2 linked regions of the Homo sapiens genome follow. The protein of the gene in region 1 interacts with the protein of each later gene in a pairwise test. Each region holds a gene or a part of one and is shown on either strand. Other genes may lie near its edges.

Region 1 (3,753 bases):
GGCCATTTCCTTACTGTAAAAGAAAAAGTTAATTAATATGATTTCTAAGATTCCTCTGAGCTCTAACATTGTGTGACTAATTTGTATCTTCTTTTCCAAGAGACAAAAAACCAAACAACAACAAACCAACACAGCTAAAGGGAATAAAGTAAAGTAGCTATGGGGCTGCCATACTTATGGGATCAACAGCATGGCTAACAAAGTTTTCTGACAGGGACAGTCAAAAAGGTATCTGACTATACAGTCTTGAGATAATTGATCCATCTGGGTCTCATTTTCTCATCTGTTATAAAAAGAAGGGGAGGAGCTAACCTAGATTATTTCTGTTATCTCTTTCAGTTTTAAAATTCAGCTAAGAAAGCTAAGAAAAGCAAAATGAAATATAAATAGAAAGGCCTAAAGGGACTACAAGAGAGATAAGCAGAATGGTAATGAAAAGACTGTCTGCTTTTCATTTCTCATATTATAAAACCACCTCCATATTTCATTTCCATTAAATATTGGTGTTGAAAGAGTGAGACCATATGGTCAACTCCCAATTATCATAGCCAATGGAGAGGAACACTGAAATGAATAATAGACAATGGCAGACAAAACTCCAGGCTTGATCTGAACCATGGTGCATGCCAGTTTGGGCATAGGAGAACCTGCTGCTCAGCCCATTGAGATACTGGTGAGAAATCCCACCTTTGAGAATACAGTCATGGCCTGCAGCTTTCCTTTGAGAGGCAGGAAACAGCTCCTGAATCATTTACAAATAACCAAGGTTGACAACTAAAAACCTAACCTAATGTTTTCTTATTAAAAATTATTTAAAGCTAAGAGCTATATTTTGTGGTTTGGATAATGTCATCCAGATTTTCTTACAATCTTTAAACTCTTTAATCACCTAAAACGAATACTGCCTCCACATGTATACTACAAACATGTTCTATCTAAGGATGAAATTATTTTTACATTTTTCATTAGAACCTTCAGTTTACCTTTTCTGCGTTTTTCAAGGTAGCCAGCCTTTAGAACAAAAGGAAGGTCTTGTGCTGCAATTGGAGGAAACTGGGCTCCTATGAGAAGTTGGGGAGAGAAAAAAAAAAGCAGTGGGTAATCCATTTCAGAATAAACAAGTGCCAGATCTCATTAGATTCAGTGTGCTTTTAATTACTGAAATTGTTTAAATCTAAGTCTATTAGCTTTGTTTCAGATCCATTCCCTAGATTAATCCCCTCTATTCCTCCTAAAAGTCTCAAAAGTAAAAAAAAAAAAAAAAAAAAAAAAGTTCTGTACTCCTATATGTTATTATAGCCTCCCAAAATACAGGACTGAGAAACTATTATAAATAAATGCAATAAATCCCTGAAAGAGAGGTTAAGAATTTCAAATAAATCATAGCTTCGTTATATTTATATTGAATTAACTCTTTAAAAATTTCAATACATATTGACTCTTTCCTGCATAATCCCTATTCCTACCAAGTAAAACATAAAATGCTTTTCCGAATCAAATGCTGAAACTTGTTTCTCTGAGCCCACAGCAAATATTCTCTGTGTTTGTATTCAGAGAAATGTTATGGACATTCCACTGAGTGAGTATGCTTTAGGTTTTTATAGGGCATTTAAGAGTCTAAAACTAGACAGATCTGATAAAACTATTATAAACAAATACTGGATCCCTAAAAAAAGTTTTTAAATCAAGCAAAAGTTAAGTTGATTAGAAATTGTATATTCACGGTCATGGATTATAGGTTACTCAATTTTACAAGTGTTCAATATTTTTATAAACTTCATTAGAAATATAATAGTTATCTGCCGGGCGCAGTGGCTCACGCTTGTAATCCCAGCACTTTTGGAGGCCGAGGCGGGTGGATCACTTGAGGACAGGAGTTCGAGACCAGCCTGGCCAACACAGTGAAACCTGGTCTCTACTAAAACTACAAAAGAAATTAGCCAGGCATGGTGGCGGGTGCCTGTAATCCCAGCTACTTGGGAGCTGACGCAGGAGAATCACTCGAACCCAGGAGGCAGAGGTTGCAGTGAGCCAAGATCACGCCATTGCAATCCAGCCTGGGAAAAAAAAGAGAAAAAAACGAAAACAGAAAAGAAAAGAAATATAATAGTTATCCTCAGCATTTTACTAGAACTCTAGCAAGTGAAAACAACCAATCAAAAGAAAGTTTGTATGGAATACATCCAGTGGAAATAGTTTCAGTACAACTTAGGATAGAAAATGTGTTTGAGTACAAACATGTAATTAGAATGAATAAGATCTAGTATTTGATAGCACAACAGAGTGACTATAGTCAACAATAATTTATTGTACATTTAAAAATAACTAAGTGGCCGGGTGCAATGGCTCATGCCTACAATCCCAGCACTTTGGGAGGCTAAGGAAGGAGGGTCGCTTGAGCCCAGGAGTTTGACACCAGCTTGGGTAACACAGTGAGACCCCCATCTCTACGAAAAATTTAAAAATAACTGGGTGTAGTGGTATACGCGCCTGCAGTCCCAGCCAGTGGAGGAGGAGGGTAGAGGTGGGGGGAAGGGGGTCTGAGGTGGGAGGATCCCCCAAGAGGTCAAGGCTGCAGTGAGCCATGATTGTGCCACTGCGCTCCAGCCTGGGTAATAGAGTGAGACCCTGTCTCTAAATAAATAAATAAATAAATAAATAAATAAATAAATAAATTAATAAAATGAAATAACTAAACAAATATAATTGGATTCTTTGTAACAGAGAAAGAATAAATGGTTGAGGTGATGGATACCTCATTTATCCTGATGTGATTATCATGCATTGTATGCCTGTATCAAAACATACAATATGCCCATAAATTTGCCTATTGTGTACCCACAAAAATTAAAAATTAAAAAAAAGAATGGGTTTGATAGGAAGTTTATTATTTACAAACTCATCACCTAATTTTACCAGTTTTTTTTTTTAATACCATGGGGATCACAGTAGTGATAAAGTCATGGATATTTTTTCTTAAGAAATAAAGCTTAAAATTAGAGCACTAATTTCAGCTCCTTGGTGGATCAACTTCACCCAGTAAACACCACACAGTATCATTAAAACATATTTAAAATAGAGCCCTGATTTTGAAATGTATATGAAATTTTAGGGAAAGTCAGTGTACATATTTTAATAGCTGTTCAATAAATGTATCCAGTTTTTTTCAAAATAAACTTGGTACATATAAAGGTATAAATTATTTATTATAGGATTTTGTACATAAAACAAAAATTACAAACAGAAATCTTATCTCTGTAAACAAGTCCTGGTGAACCACTAATCTAAAGTGGATAATTGTGGAATGATCTGGTCTCATTAAGGGGTAGTCCCACAACCCTCTCACTTCCATTGGGCATAATAAATGCTCTTTACATAAGGAATGGATGCTCACAAAATCTTAAGAAAAGTTAAATTATTCTGAAAAGAAATGGGTACCTTTAGCATAGCTTTCAACTCTAAAATGTTACTGGTCAAAAAGGAGACAGAGAGAGATGGGAAGAAGGGAGAGGGGAGAGGAAGTGGGGGAAAAGGAAAAGGAGAAGGGAAATTAGAATTTACTAGCGTTCAATATACACATAGCCTGAGTCTTTTGCTTTAAGAAAAGTGTTGACTAAATTTCCACCTGATACATCACAATAAAATTTGATGTCATAAGCAATACTTGTTCTGAATTCTAAATTCATGTTTCTAATATAAAATCTTTGATTTCTTCCCTGGGGAGTGGGGGAGTACATTTTTTTTAACTGAAAT
Region 2 (3,753 bases), on another chromosome or scaffold:
GCCCACAGCTGGTGCGTGGCAGAGACCACCTTCAAGCTCAGGATCTTGATTCTGGAGTCACAGTCTTAACCGCAACCCCTGGAACCACAGCCCAAACCCGCCAGCGAGCCACGGTTCACTCTCTTCACTTTCTTGTTTTTAGAAATGTTCCTGTAGAGCAGCCTCTAGTAACACCTCAGACAAATGAAATATCATTTCTACATCCCTGATCTCTCTCTCTTGTTAACGTATTGTGTAAATGGTGGAAAATGTGGTTTTTAAAGCACATTGAGGCTGGTAAAAGCTTCAAAGCCACCGCCTGCACTTACTCTTTAGACCACTAGATGTCAGTGTGATTGCTCTATGAAGCAGCCGTAACTTGGCAAGGTGCAGCATTGCACCAGAAATCAGCTGCTGCGAGCTTCCAAGCCTCTGGACTCCAGCAGAAGCTGGGGGGAATTTGAAGCCCAATGGTAGTAAACAAATAATGGACATGACAGTCAGGCAGTGTGGATTTCAACCTTTACAATAATTTCTCAAGGGAAATGGAAACCTTTTTAGCCTTTCCTTTTTGAAACGGATGGTCAACTTTTCCACGGGGTGCCTTAAGTGCACCATAACGCCTTTGATATTCAGGATCGCCTTTAATGGTACATCATAAAACATGTGGTTTTATTGGAAAGAGCACCCTTATCCTCCTCCCCCTCACCTATCACTTATGATTAATTTCTTAAGGTATCGGACTATTTGAAGTGTGTGTATCTCACATTGCATGGGGACGTTTTACTCTACCTAAAACCTCCGGTGGCATTCCCATAGCATGGGCAGAAAATCACAGCCACAACTTCACCCTTCCGGTGATAAGCCCATCTGTTTCCCACGCAGAATTATTTGTATTTAATGAAAAAATATTTAAAATGGTGAATATTAATTATTATTTTACATTAGTACTCAAAAAGTGTATATAGTTTTATCCCCTCAACAACTCCATGAGATGAGTTCTATTATTATCCCCATGTTTAGATGAGAAAACTGAGACACAGAGAGGTTAAGTGGCTCTCCCAAAGTCACACAGCTAATAGAAGGCAGAGTCAGAGGCCCATTTCTATTAATTACTTCCCTGCAAATCAAGTTAAATGGGGGGAAAAGACCTTGTGAATTTTTCAGAAGAATCAGCAATGTATACAAGACAGCCAAAGGCTCCGAGGAAAATTTGGAGTTGCTGGTTGCTTTGAAAGGCCTCCTTGGCTGATCTGCAGCTGTTTGTCATCATTTATCCAGTTTGCCAGGATTCCTTCTGAGAAGGCATAATTCATGGCAGTATAGTCCCTTTCTTTAGTCTATGTAGAAATCTCATGTGAATCCTCACCTCCTGCCAGGTTTGGAGGAAATTGAAAGTTACTCTTTCTCATCAAAAGGATGGACACATATTTGTTAGGAACCAGGATGAAATAAACCATCTGTGCCCAGCTCTGTTGGCAATAAAACCTTGTTTCTGGTTTCACTGCAAGACGTTATTTAACGCTAGTGGCACCAGAGGTTCCAACAAGAACACATGAGAGGCCTTATCCAGTTACGAAAGAGCAAGTGACAGACACGTTCCCGGCCACATTTTTATCTGCTTATCATCCTTTTGGCTACCATGAGGCTGAGTTTTAGTGTCTCCTGTTCATCTCTTTTGCTATTTTCCAACAGAACATGCGTTTCCTTCAGTTATTCAGCTAGCACAGTCTGTGCTGCCAGAATTTGGAAGTGGTGCTTTTTTCCTGCTATAAAAAATTACACATTTATTTGAAAGAAGAAACCTAGGCATAGCTGTTACCTGACTCCTGCAGAAGAAGGCGGAAGGATGGCCTCCTTTAGTGGATCTTCCTGGGCCAGGGTCTGGGCCCTACTCACTTCTAGCTGTCGCATCTGCTCTGCATGTGGAACTCAAGAACTGCGGAGCTTTCTGATGCCTGGCAGGGTTTTGTCCCGGTCAGTGGTTGAGTGAGCCACACCTCCCTCCCCTGACCAGGCAAACTTAGACAAGAAAAGTTCTATTATGCCCTCAGGATATTGAGTAATAAGGAGGAGAAAGGGGAACTTAAAAGTGTCTGTTCAGCCTGGATACTTCTGCTAACATTCCCACCAAGCATGTGATATTTAAAAGGGTAAAACCAAAACAAGATTCTCCTGCCTGCCACCATGTTTATTCAAGAGGAAGAAGCTGTAAGTTCTTTGGACCCATAATCTTTCCACACACCCAGGAGTGTCACCTGCAATGGGGGCCAAAGGGGGATGCTTACAATTAGAAAGGTCCACTGGAGCATGTGGAATATTTGGAAGCTAATTGCACCTGAGGTCAGGAGGTAAAGTGGTGTGCTTGACCATATCAACTGAAGAGTGGTCACTCATGTGTGGAAAGCCCACTAGACTCACTCTGTCGGCTCTCTGTTAGACTATTCTTGAGGCTGGAAGAAATGGAGTATTTAGATGATAATCCATGTGAAAAGACCACCAGTGGGGCTGAGTGTAGTGGGTCATGCCTGTAATCCCGGTACTTTGGAAGGCTGAGGCAGGAGGATTGCTTGAGACCAGGAGTTCAAGACCAGTCTTGACAACATGGTGAGACCCTGTCTCTACAAAAATAAAAAAAAAATTAGCCAAGTGTGATGGTGCATGCCTGTAGCCCCAGACATTTGGGAAGCTGAGGTGGGAGGATTTCTTGAGCACAGGAGTTCAAGGCTTCAGTGAGCTATGATTGCACCACCATTGCACTCCAGCCTGGGTAACAGAGCAAGATCCTGTCTGAAGGAAAAAAAAAAAAGAAGAAAGAAAGAAAGAAAAATAAAGAGAAGGAAAGAAAGAAAGAAACTCAAAAAAGAAAAGAGAAAAAAAGAAAAGAAAAGACAAGAAAAGAAAAGAAACCCCCCAAAACAGAGGCTACCATTGGGACTAAATGAGATTTTAACAAATTGTGATTGTGAAATTAACCTCCCCCACCTTCCTTCTACTCATTCATTCATAAACATCAAACACTTACTGTGTGGGTCAAGCACTGGCCAAGACTAGAAAGATGGAGAAGACAAGGATTTTCCACTCAGTGGCTTATAATCTTACAGACGTTATGCCAGAGATGGTCACTTTCCTCCCCGTATGATTTTCCCTTCTTATAGAGTAGTAGGGTCAGCAAACTATGGCCCGCATGCCAAATCTGGCCTGTGGAATGTTTTGTACAGACCTCAGGCTAAGAATTTACATTTTTTAAGAATTGTAAGAAAAGGGAGAAGAAGCAAAAGAAGACAATGATGGTAACAATGATGATGACAACAATGATGATGACATGGCTGAGACCGTATATGGCCTGAAATATTTACTATCTAGTCCTCTGCAGAAAAAGTTTGCCAAAAGTTTAGGATGCTTATTCTATCCTAAGAGATCTCTGGCTTTTTACCTGGCCCACAGCTACACAGGATAAGGCATTTTCTAGTCCCTCTTGACATTAGATTTGGCCATGTGGTTAAGTTTTAGTCAATGGGATCTATGCAGAAGGGATCTATGTAGCTTCTTGGTGTGTCCTAAAAGAGGGCCCCATCATGCTTTCCCCTCCCAGCTGGCTGGGATGCTGTGGGGGCCTGAGCTCTTCTGATCCAGTGATGACTAAGGTAATACTCTAGGCATGACAGAGCCAGGAGATAGAAGGACCTGGCCCCCAACACAGGAGACAACCCCATCTTCACTGGATTTTGCTAGATGGTTATAAAGAAGGGAACAGGAGGACAGACATTTAAC

Evidence for each region.
Region 2: the proteins of SKAP2 (region 1) and FYB1 interact in a protein complementation assay, tested with the Homo sapiens proteins (one study listed by BioGRID).

The regions. Positions count from the first base shown.
Region 1 is NC_000007.14:26,738,904-26,742,656, forward strand, and holds part of SKAP2 (src kinase-associated phosphoprotein 2), read right to left. Parts: intron 3,469-3,753; exon of another isoform or gene 3,439-3,468; intron 1,062-3,438; coding exon 984-1,061; intron 1-983. UniProt on the Homo sapiens protein: May be involved in B-cell and macrophage adhesion processes. In B-cells, may act by coupling the B-cell receptor (BCR) to integrin activation. May play a role in src signaling pathway.
Region 2 is NC_000005.10:39,217,642-39,221,394, forward strand, and holds the start of FYB1 (FYN-binding protein 1), read right to left. Parts: upstream 1,923-3,753; 5' UTR 1,802-1,922; intron 1-1,801. UniProt on the Homo sapiens protein: Acts as an adapter protein of the FYN and LCP2 signaling cascades in T-cells. May play a role in linking T-cell signaling to remodeling of the actin cytoskeleton. Modulates the expression of IL2. Involved in platelet activation.